2 separate regions of the Homo sapiens genome follow, and region 1 is linked to region 2. Evidence: fine-mapped expression QTL. A gene starts in region 2. The other region holds a variant in brackets. All regions are shown on one strand. Distances are between the middles of the regions.

Region 1 (5,364 bases), 51 kb after region 2:
GAGGTGTTTGGGTTAAAGTCCCTTCAACAGATATTGGTGGGTGGCTCCAAGGCTGCAAAACCCCCACGGCCAGTCCTGCCCTCCGCGCCCTGACAGTATCCCCACCATGCCCTGCCCTGTGTGGCTCTGAAGAAATCCCCCAGTGACCTGAATTCCATGAAGCCGGGTGTATGGCTGGGGGTGGATCAGTCAAGAGTTTGGTCCTGGAATGATCGGGTGGCACTTTGTAATTTCACTTCAATTTCAGAGTAACCACTGAGTCTCCCCGCTTTGCCTTGCCTTTCAGTGGGAAGTTGGTGTCTCCAAAGTGGAAGAATTTCAAGGGCCTGAAGCTACAGTGGAGAGACAAGATCCGGCTCAATAATGCCATCTGGCGGGCCTGGTACATGCAGTGTAAGTGCCGCCCAGCCTGGGCGCCGGTGGTGGTCAGAACTTCACGGCCTGGAGGCCTGGGCACCCAGGGACCAGAGTCTGCTCCTGGGACCTGGTGTTTCTAACAGAAGTTCAGTCTGTGCAGACAGGAAACCCAAGCCATCAGGCCCAGCAGAGGGGTGGCATCTGAAGAGTCAGGGAGCAGGTCTAGGAAGACTCAGGCATGGGCCTTCTCTCTCCAGCCCGAGTGTCATGGATCCGGTAGCTTCTCCGGGAGATGAGTGTGCTAGGGCAGGCTTGTGTTGGGCTGGTCTTTCTCTGAGAAGCCACACTGCCTCTCTGACTGAGGCGTTCGTTATTGACAGATTCCTCTCCTTTCACCTGGACTCCTTTATTTCCCTGAAATCTCCTTTTCCTAGGGAAGGAGAAGGAAAGGGTACCTGGGAATGTGGTCTGCCCTAGGGGAGGGGTGCAGCAGACAGGCTGGGGCTCCCTCAGGGGTCTGGATCATGGTGCTGACTCTCACCCTCTCTCTGCTCAGATCTGGAGAAGCGCAAGAATCCTGTGTGCCACTTTGTGACACCCCTGGACGGCTCTGTGGACGTAGACGAGCACCGCCGGCCGGAGGTACTTGGCAGTGACCAAGGGTGGCTGAGAGTGGAAACATACCAGCACCTCACCGGGAGTGGCTCACCGCGGGCTGGTCCTGTAGGAGAGGCTGCCGAGGGTAGTGCAGCGCCTGCCCTGCGCCATCCATGCCCTGGGGGCCAGGCCTGGGAGCTGGTGGCCTCTGGCAACCCCAGGCTGCAGAGCCTCCCCCTTCTCAGAGGGACTGGCCCAGGGACTGAGGGGGTTAATATCTTTCTGTTAATTTTTAAAGTGTGTGTCTATGTGTGATTATACATGCACAGGAAGTGTCTAGAGGAATATATAGAAGTGTCTTTATTAAGAGACTTCAGGAACCTCTGGGGAGTAGGATTAGGGCTGCCAGATGAGGGGGAGATGCTTTCTTCACTGCATACTCTTCTGTGTGGCTTTAATTTTGTCTAGGCATGTCTCACTGTTAACGATAAAGGGGGAATTTAGAAGGTAAGCTAATGAAAGACAGTTTTGAGACAGGTATAATCTGGTATTAGACAGTATCAAGGGATATCATTTTGTTGGGTATGGCAATATTGTAATCAGTTCTTTTTAACAGAAAAGCATCTTTGCTGTCGAGGACACACACACAGTGTTTGTAGGTGAGGTGATTTGGGCCTTGAGATCAGAAAGTGAGGCAACCCCAGGCATTGGGGCTCCTTATCTCTGGAGCTCGAAGGCTGTCATGCAAGGCATCCACACTGGCATCACGCGAAGGTTGGATGAGAGGCCCCTGGAGGGCACATTCCACCTGAAACTTCCTGGAATTGGCTGTTCATTTTTGCCCTTTGAATGTGGCAGAGGCTGTGGGGAAGGGGCATTTATGGGGGGGCTTGGGAATTGCTGCAGCGTTCCCCTGCTTCTTCCTCTGTGGAGCATTCTGCTCTCACCCTGTCCTCCTGGACAGAGCCTCAGGACCGTGCCCCCAAGGCCTTTGGCTACCTTAGGTCTTGAAATGACAGCGCATTGTTAGCTAGAGGGTCTGCTATAGCATGGAAGAAGTGGGACGTACTTTCTGAGTGATGTGGTAGCCACTGTGGGGTTTCCCGCTGGATTGCCTAAGGCCTGATT[A/G]TAGTGCCGGATACTCAGTACACCAGTTGAGCTTTGCTAATCAAGCAGAGCCCCCTCTTCACTCTGCTCTCTGTCCCTGTCCTAGGCCATCACCACGGAAGGGAAGTACTGGAAGAGCCGCATCGAGATTGTGATCCGGGAGTATCACAAGTGGAGAACCTACTTCAAGAAAAGGGTATCTGGCTGGAGTGTTCAGGCAGCCCGCCTAGGGAGGGAGTGGGCAGAGTCCCTGGTTCAGGGCCCTGGCCGAGGCGGTAGGCTCCACAGCCGCCCCACCTGAACGTGGAGCGTCAAGCAGTAAATCTGGGGCCCAGCGTGCCAGACTAGCCTGGGCAATGGCCTGCCTCGGTCAGGTTGTCTTTGCTCTCAGTTTCCCCATCTGTGCACTGGGTGGAAGTCTCCTTTGTGCAGGCATCGGCCTGGGGATGGTGTGAGCAGGACCCCTACCTGCCTCCCTGAGAGTTCTGTATATTCTAGAGCCCTTGGGCCCTCCTAGGGCCATTGGTGACCGCCGTGTCCTGTCCCTTTGCCCACAGCTACAGCAGCACAAGGATGAGGACCTCTCCAGCCTGGTCCAGGTGGGTGAGCCTGGGAGCTCTGAGGACCCCCACTTTGACATGAGACAGCAGGGACTTCGGTGGCCCACCAGGGAGCCCTGCAAAAGGCGGCAGGCCATGGGCCCTCCCTGGAGTCTCAGGAATGGCTCAAGAAGCAGTCCAGCTCTCTCTCCTGGGTGGGCTGGAGGGAGCCGCTCTCCAAATGCCTCCACCCTGCTGCCTCACTTCCACTGAGCACCCCTTTGACGAATTTCCCCAGGTGACAGGCGTGGGAATTCTTCGTCCCACTGTTACTCTTTGATGCTTCCTCCCCTGTGTTGGTGTTGTGTTAGGACGATGACATGCTGTATTGGCACAAGCACGGGGATGGATGGAAGACCCCCGTCCCCATGGAGGAGGATCCCCTGCTGGACACAGACATGCTCATGTCGGAATTCAGCGACACCCTCTTCTCCACACTTTCTTCACACCAGCCGGTGGCCTGGCCCAATCCCCGGGAAATAGGTAACCCAAACCAGGGCCTTGGGCTTTGAACAGCCAGCCGCTTCCTTCTCTGCCAGGCCCCCTCTGGGCCAGGGTTCCTTCAGGGCCATCTCTGAGCTGCTGCACGTCACGGTTGGGGGCAGGCAGTAAGGAAGGGAAGGATGGCTGGCCTCATTTGACATCCAGGCCGCACGTACCGAGTGGGTGGGGTCTGCAGAGTGGGCCCACTGGGCAGCTGCCATTCCCGTAGTGCCATGGTGGGAGGACAGCAGCAGGGTCTAGTCTGAGTCATTGGCACATTTCAGATACCGTTCTCTTCACGGGGTACGTGTGCCGTGCCTAAGCCGAGGCGGCCGGGCCGTGACTCATGCTAAAGAAAATCAGAAGCACTCCCGGGTGTGACCGCTCACCTTGGTGGCATTCAGTCTTCCAGTTAACCTCTCAGGGAAGAGCCCAAAGATTGAAAATTAGAACAGTGTTCGGGGAGGTCTCTGTTCTCTCTTGAGCTCTTTACAGCTTCCTGGGGTGTCCATTCCCTGATACTCAATTTTACCTTCCTGGCAAAAACTTACTTTCCTGCCTTTTGAGGGTGCGGAATGGCCACAAACCCTGAGAAGGTAGAAATCCCAGCCAGCTCCTTGGAAGACTCTGGGATGTGAGCAGGGCCAGGAAGTTCTGTTCCAGGCCTTTTTTACGTTCCTGCAACATTGTCTGAGAAGACAAAATGGTTCCTCTCTCTGTGATTCTTGCAGCACATCTGGGAAATGCAGACATGATCCAGCCGGGACTGATTCCTTTGCAGCCTAACCTGGACTTCATGGACACCTTTGAGCCTTTCCAGGGTGAGGACCAGAGGCAGAGAGAGCACGGTTGCCTCCATCTCCCCCAGCCCAGCACAGAGCAGATCGCTGCCTTCCTTTAAGAGGCGAGACTTGGTAGAATGGGCAAGGGGGCGAGCAAAGAATTTTTTTTTAAACTGAACTGTTTTTTGTAGTAACTGCAAGGTCTGGGAAGTTTTTCTGGGACATTGTTCAGCAAGGAAATTGGCTCTGGATTTAGCCGTGACTGTAAGCAGTTCTCCCTCGAAGCAGCAGAGGGCACTGATGACACAGCCAGCTCCCTACCAAGGCCCTGCAGTTAGATGGGTCCTTGAGCACCTGCCATTGTGACAGCAGCAGAAACGTCAGGCCTGGGAGTGTTTCAGAGCCCAGGATAGTTGCCAACATGTGTGGTTCCAACCAGAGCCCCCTTTCTACAGAAAAAAAGGTGTCTCAGGGTAATACCCTCTGTCCATGGCATCCCCCTGGGCCATGTGGGGTTTAGGGGTTTAGTCCTTGATTTGTTTGAGTCTTTTTTTTTTTTTTTTTTTTTTTTTAGAGACAGGGTCTTGCACTGTCACCCAGGCTAGAGTGCAGTGGTTCAATCATGGTTCACTGCAGCCCTGAACTCCTGGGCTCAAGCGATCCTCCCACCTCAGCCTCCTGAGTACCTGGGACTACAGGCACACACCACCACACCCAGTTCATTTCTTCATTTTTTTGTAAAGACGGGGGTCTGCTATGTTGCCCAGGTGATCCTCCTGCCTCTGCTTCCCAAAGTGCTGGGATTACAGGTGTAAGCCATCACACCCAGCCTGTTTTAGTCTTTGTTATTTTGAGACAGAGCCTTGCTCTGTAGCCCACGCTGGAGTGCAGTGGCAAGAACACGGCTCACTGCACCCTCAACCTCCCTCCTGGACTTAAGCGATCCTTCCGCTTCAGCCTCCTGTGTAGTTGGGACCACTGGTGGCACCAACCAGGCATGGTGGTTGTGGTTGGCACCTTTTTTTTTTTTTTTTTTTTTTTTTTTTTGAGACGGGAATCTCGCTCTGTCATCAGGCTGGAGTGCAGTGGTGCGATCTTAGCTCACTGCAACCCCTGCCTCCTGGGTTCAAGCCATTCTCCTGCCTCAGCCTCCTGAGTAGCTGGGACTACAGGCATGTGCCACTACACCCAGCTAATTTTTGTATTTTTAGTAGAGATGGAGTTTCACCATGTTAGCCAGGATGGTCTTGATCTCTTGACCTCATGATCTGCCTACCTCGGCCTCCCAAAGTGCTGGGATTACAGGCATGAGCCACCGTGCCTGGCCCTGTTTGAGTCTTGATTCCAGCAAATGCTGGGCACACTGAGCTCAGAAGACCCCTGCTGTTGTTTTTCAGACCTCTTCTCTTCTAGCCGCTCCATTTTTGGCTCCATGCTAC
Region 2 (5,364 bases):
AAAAAAAGAAAGAAAATATAGGTAAACACAAAGACAAAAAAGCAGGGCATGGTGGCTCACACCTGTAATTCTAGCACCTTGGGAGGCTGAGGCAGGAGGATCACTTGAGGTCAGGAACTCGAGACGAGACCAGGCTGGGCAGCATGGCGAGACCCCATCTCTATAAAAAGTACAAAAATTAGCAGGGCACGGTGGTGTGCACCTGTGGTCCTGCTACTTGGGAAGTTGAGGTGGGAGGATCACCTGAGCCCTGGAGGTTGAGGGTGCTGTGAGCCATGATGGCACCACTCCACTCCAGTCCAGGTGAAAGAGCCAGATCCTGTCTCAAAAAAAAAAAAAAAAAAAAGTGGCTGGGCATGTAAACTTACCAAGGACCAAGGAGACAAGTCTTGAGAGAAAGGAAGGCAACTCAAAGGATGGACTTTTAAACACTTGTAACCAGCATTGGGAACAGTAGTAGGTTGAAGAGGGAAATCTAGAACTCATGCCTGAAAACTGCCAGTCATCCAGCCCATTTTTCCATACAGACATTTGGAAATAAGTTAATGGAGCCATTTTGGTGAGAGCCCTCTGTTCCCTTCAGGAGGCCTTTGTCAGGAAGAGGGTGGGGCAGGGGACTCACCCCCCACTCAAATCTGGAACTGAAACCAGCTTCAAAGCCGAGTGCAGAGCCAGCGCGGTGGCTCATGCCTGTCATCCCAGCACTTTGGGAGTCCAAGGCAGGCCTCACTTGAGGTCAGGAGTTCCAGACCGGCCTGGCCAACATGGTGATTGCACCACTGCGCTACAGCCTTGGGTGACAGAGCAAGACTCTGTCTCAAAAAACAAAACAACAATAAAACAAAGCAGAGTGCAGGAGTGGCTGTGGACTCTGGACGCCCTGCTAGGATTAGGATGGGTGTTCCTGGCTCATGGGCCTCACTGGCTCTTCTGATGCCCTGCCACCCCCACCCCAGACTGGCTTTGAGCCCCGGAAACCTTGACAGCTTTCTAGAGGTGTCTGTCAGTTAGGTTGTGCCACGCGAAGTTGCCGTTTCTGCAGGTCAAATAGTGGTGGACTATTGGCAATTTCTAGGCACCTCTGGTCTGGTTGATCCAAATCCTCCAACCTGTGGCACATTTATTTAGCGCTCATTTTGTGCCAGCCTGCCTGCTAAGCAACTTATAGCCATTTTTATTTGTATTTATTTTTCTTTTTGAGACAGGGCCTCGCTCTGTCGCCCAGGCTAGAGTGCAATGGCGCAATCTCGGCTCACTGCAACCTCCACCTCCCGGATTCAAGCGATTCTCCTGCCTCAGCCTCCCGAGTAGCTGGGATTACAGGGGTGCACCACTACGACCGGCTAATTTTTGTTATTTTTAGTAGAGACAGGGTTTCACCGTGTTGGCCTGGCTGGTCTTGAACTTCTGGCCTCAAGTGATCCACCCGCCTCGGCCTCCAAAAGTGCTAGGATTACAGGCATGAGCCACCGCGCCCCACTATAGCCATTTTTAAACTGTCCCAAGTTTCTGAGGAAACGGAATTGTTCACCATTTGACAGAGAAGAAAACTCTGGCTCAGATACTCCCCTTTTAGAATTGTTTCGGGGGCTGGCTCGTCCGTCAAACTTTAAAAAAATAACAACAGCATGCTGAGTTGAAGTTAAAAGAGCTGGGGTCTGGAGGTCGCTGGGCTCAGGGGCGCTGCCACTCAACAGCTGCGCCGAGCTGGGGACGCGCAGGGGAAGCAAGTTCCCAGCTCTGTGGACTCCAGGTCTGAGAAAAATCCTGTCGGTATTCAGCCACCCAGTGTTCCCATCAATACGATGAGAATAATGAGGACAATAGCCACCACGTCCGGCAAACTCAGGCGTGAGCTGCGAGGACTCGGTACCGCCCGGCAGGGAAAAAGCAGGGCCTGGAGGCCGAGGAGCCCCACCCGCACCCACCACGTGGAGCCGGCCGGGCCTGCGGCGAAGCCACAGGGCGACTCCCGGGGCGCGGAGCGGGGCGGGGGCGGGACTAGCACGGCCCCACTCTGCCGACGCCTCTCCCAGGTCGCGACACCGGCGAGCCGCTCCGCCCGGCCACCGTGTCCCTCAGCACCCACGGACGCCGGGAGAGGAGGAGGTGGCGAGGGGCACGGCCGGGAGGCGTGGCCTCCGCTTCCCCTTTTTTTTTTTTTTTGGTCCGCCTAGCTAAGGAAAGGTTCCCCTGCGCCTTTAAGAGGCCGACGCGGGCAGCCGATTGGCCCAGACGCCTCGGTGACGTCACGCCGGGGCCGGAGCCCTCCCCCTCCCGCCGCGCCGCGCGCTCGCGGACAGTCGGCGCGCGGGCCGGGCCGGGCCGGCGCCCCTCTGCCTCGCGCGCTTGTCGCGTTGCCCCGGGCTCCGGGGGATGCCCCCGGCCGAGCCCTTCTCATGGCCGCCGACGTCTTCATGTGCTCCCCGCGCCGGCCTCGCAGCCGGGGCCGCCAGGTGCTGCTCAAGCCCCAGGTGTCCGAGGACGACGACGACTCGGACACGGATGAGCCGTCCCCGCCGCCCGCCTCCGGCGCGGCCACCCCGGCCCGGGCCCACGCGAGCGCCGCGCCACCGCCGCCTCGGGCCGGGCCGGGCCGCGAGGAACCTCCGCGCCGCCAGCAGATCATCCACAGCGGCCACTTCATGGTGTCGTCGCCGCACCGAGAGCACCCGCCCAAGAAGGGCTACGATTTCGACACGGTCAACAAACAGACGTGCCAGACCTACAGCTTCGGCAAGACTAGCTCCTGCCACCTGTCCATCGACGCCTCGCTCACCAAGCTCTTCGAGTGCATGACTTTGGCCTACAGGTAGGGACCCCCGCGACCCCCTGAGGCCCCGGCCGGAGGCCCTTGTTTGACAAAACAAGCGTGGAGGGAAGGGCCGCCTGGCAACCCCGTGGCTTCATGCATTCCCTTTGGGTCTTCCTCCTTCGGGAGGGTTTATGGATCTGGGGTTCCCCGCGTTGCCAGAGGAGCCGGGGTCCTGGCCTCTTCCCCTGCCAGCAGTGCCGGGGTCCTTTCGGGTTCACGTTCCCCATCCAGGCCCTCCCCTCCAGTGTCCTGGGACCACCGATGTTGGACGAGGAAGAGGTATAAACACTGGCTGCATCTTGTGTTACCCGACTCTATCGACTCCTTCCTCCAAACGCTTTGTGTGTTTCCCCCATATCCAGCAGCGGTCAGGACCACCTGTTCGGGGTGACTGGAGGCTGGCTCTGCTGTTTAATGGTTGTGTAACACCTCGGAGCCTGTTTCCTCCTTTATAAAAGGGGAATGACTGTAGTGTCTGCCTCCAAGGGGCTGTTGTGGGGATGGAGTGAGATAGGTAAATTGCTTATTCCAGTGCTTGGCCAGAGTTAGGTGTCCCTGCACCTGGAGGCTGGCCCCCTTACAACCTCATCGGGAGGCCCGCCCCCATCTCGGGAGGGCTTTGGGTGCCTCCTAAGAAGACTTTTGGTGCCACAGCTGTTGGAGGTGCAGTCTGTCCTTCTGGCAAGTTGGAGGGTTTTCTGGCCGGTCCTGAAACATTATATGAGGGAGATGTCATTGTTGAGGGCAGACATCCCAGACACCGTTCTGACATGTGGATTCGGCTCTGGGCAGAGATTCCTCTTTTCCAAGTCACAGAAAATGCCTGGCCCTCAAAGATTAAAGCGCTTTTTCACTCTCTCTCCCTTTCCCACTATGAATATTAGGTATTTGCTGCAGGTAACTTTTTTGTCTGCGCAACAGAACTTCTTTGGACTGGCAGCAGCGGCCTTGAGCAGCTTGGCCCTGCAGAAAGCTCATGATGGGATCTCTGCTGAGTTAAGCTTATTGCATTAGGAACTGGACTAGCGGGGGCTGTCTTAGGTCTGCTCTGGAGGCATCGCGGGAGAAGTTTCCTAGGAGACTCCATAAACAGCGTAATAAAAGAGCAGGAATATCTTGCCCCCTCTCACCTCACCTTTTTAAGAGAGCTGTGAGCCCCAAGCATATCCAGGTTTAAATGTTATGCTTTTACCTGAAGTTAAAATATTAGATACTTAGCCCTGGATGGCACCCCCCTCACCGCCGCGGTCCCTGGAATAAACGATTAGTCAACTTGTTCTTTGTTATGTTCCTGAAACACCCCTATTTCCTCTCTTGAAGGTTTCCCTGATGATCTGTTCCCGTAGCTCCTCCTCCCATCCCCCTTACCCGGCACATTGGTCAGTCTCTGCTGATTCTCTGGTCTTGCCAGTTTGAGCTGGCACTGAGCCTGTAAAGATGTTCTGCTTTTTAAAAAACAAATGGTGTTGAGGCTGCAGCCCTGTGCGCCCTCCAGTCTCTGATTTTGAGCAGTTCCATTGGAATCAAACCCGACTGGATCGCAGCATATGCTATGCCTCGAGAGAGCCTTTTCAAACAAAGCTCGAGGTGAAAGACTGGAATGTATCTTATTAAGAAAACTTAATCCTCTTCTTTATTTTAATATAAACTTCTACATATACAGGGAGAGAATGGATGAGTCACGGGGGGCATGGACTGGAAAGGTCTCACCTAAGTAAGCTCTGCTAAATGAAAACTAAATCAGTCTCCCCTTTGCACTCTTGTTTGGATAACCTAAAGGCTTATTAAACAACACCAAATAATTTTAGTAATGGCATTTTTTTTTTCATTTCTCTCAAAAATATTTTGGCAGCTGGCCGTTGCTCAGTTAACTTTCTTGATTGCAAAATGCACCATCAGTTTGGTGCAAGAAGCTTATCTTGCTCTCTTGGCTCTCTCACTTTCGCTGCTTTTCCCTGTGCCTAAGGTCTCCTGCTGCCTAAGGTCGGCCACCTAAGGTCTACCACCACAGGCCCTCGGATGGGATCTGTCCAGTCATTTCTCATGAAGATGCCCTTTGTCTGTCTGTGTGAGGCTGGTTTGTCCAGTGCTGAGTTTAGTTGGCAGTGTAGAACTTTGGTATGGATGACAGACAAATGACTCAAAACCAGTTGTCTGGGCTGTAGTCTGTGGCACAGAAAGAAACTAGAGGAAGGTGAGTTTCTGACCCCAGCTCTCCTAGTGAGAACTGCTACCTGGCTTTCAGGGAAGGAAGGTTGAGATCGGAGGCAACGCGGGGCGTGGTGGCTCATGCCTGTAGTCCCAGCACTTTGGGAGGCCGAGGTGGGGGATTGCTTGAGCCCAGGAGTTCAAGATCAGCCTGGGCAATGTAGCAAGATCCCCATCTCTAAAAAAGAAAAAGAAAGAAAGAAAAAAAGGGATTGGGGGCAGGGCAGAAAGAAGACTTAACCTCAGAGCCTGTCTGGCTTCCATCCTGGTGGGGTTCATGCCTTCCCTGCCGGCTGTCTGGGTCCTCCCCTCCTGCCCGAGCTGAGAAAGGCCAGCTGGGT

What was found. PIP is the estimated chance that this variant, and not a neighbour inherited with it, causes the effect.
Region 1: its variant is fine-mapped to the expression of MLXIP in fibroblasts (GTEx, PIP 0.98).

Annotation. Positions count from the first base shown.
Region 1 is chr12:122,126,970-122,132,333 of GRCh38, forward strand. MLXIP (MLX interacting protein) reads left to right here. Exons shown (of 17, transcript NM_014938.6): 2 at 287-393; 3 at 914-999; 4 at 2,168-2,257; 5 at 2,619-2,660; 6 at 2,972-3,143; 7 at 3,875-3,964; 8 at 5,323-5,364. Among named protein-coding and RNA genes, the nearest start is that of IL31, 45 kb to the right of the region's middle. RefSeq lists enhancers at 1-80, 81-591, 2,518-3,717. The variant A/G (reference allele first, on the strand shown) is at 2,083.
Region 2 is chr12:122,076,455-122,081,818 of GRCh38, forward strand. MLXIP (MLX interacting protein) reads left to right here and starts at 2,302. Exons shown (of 17, transcript NM_014938.6): 1 at 2,302-2,812. The coding sequence starts at 2,400. RefSeq lists enhancers at 528-577, 2,645-2,884, 4,752-4,801, 4,872-4,921 and silencers at 1,845-2,124, 2,135-2,584.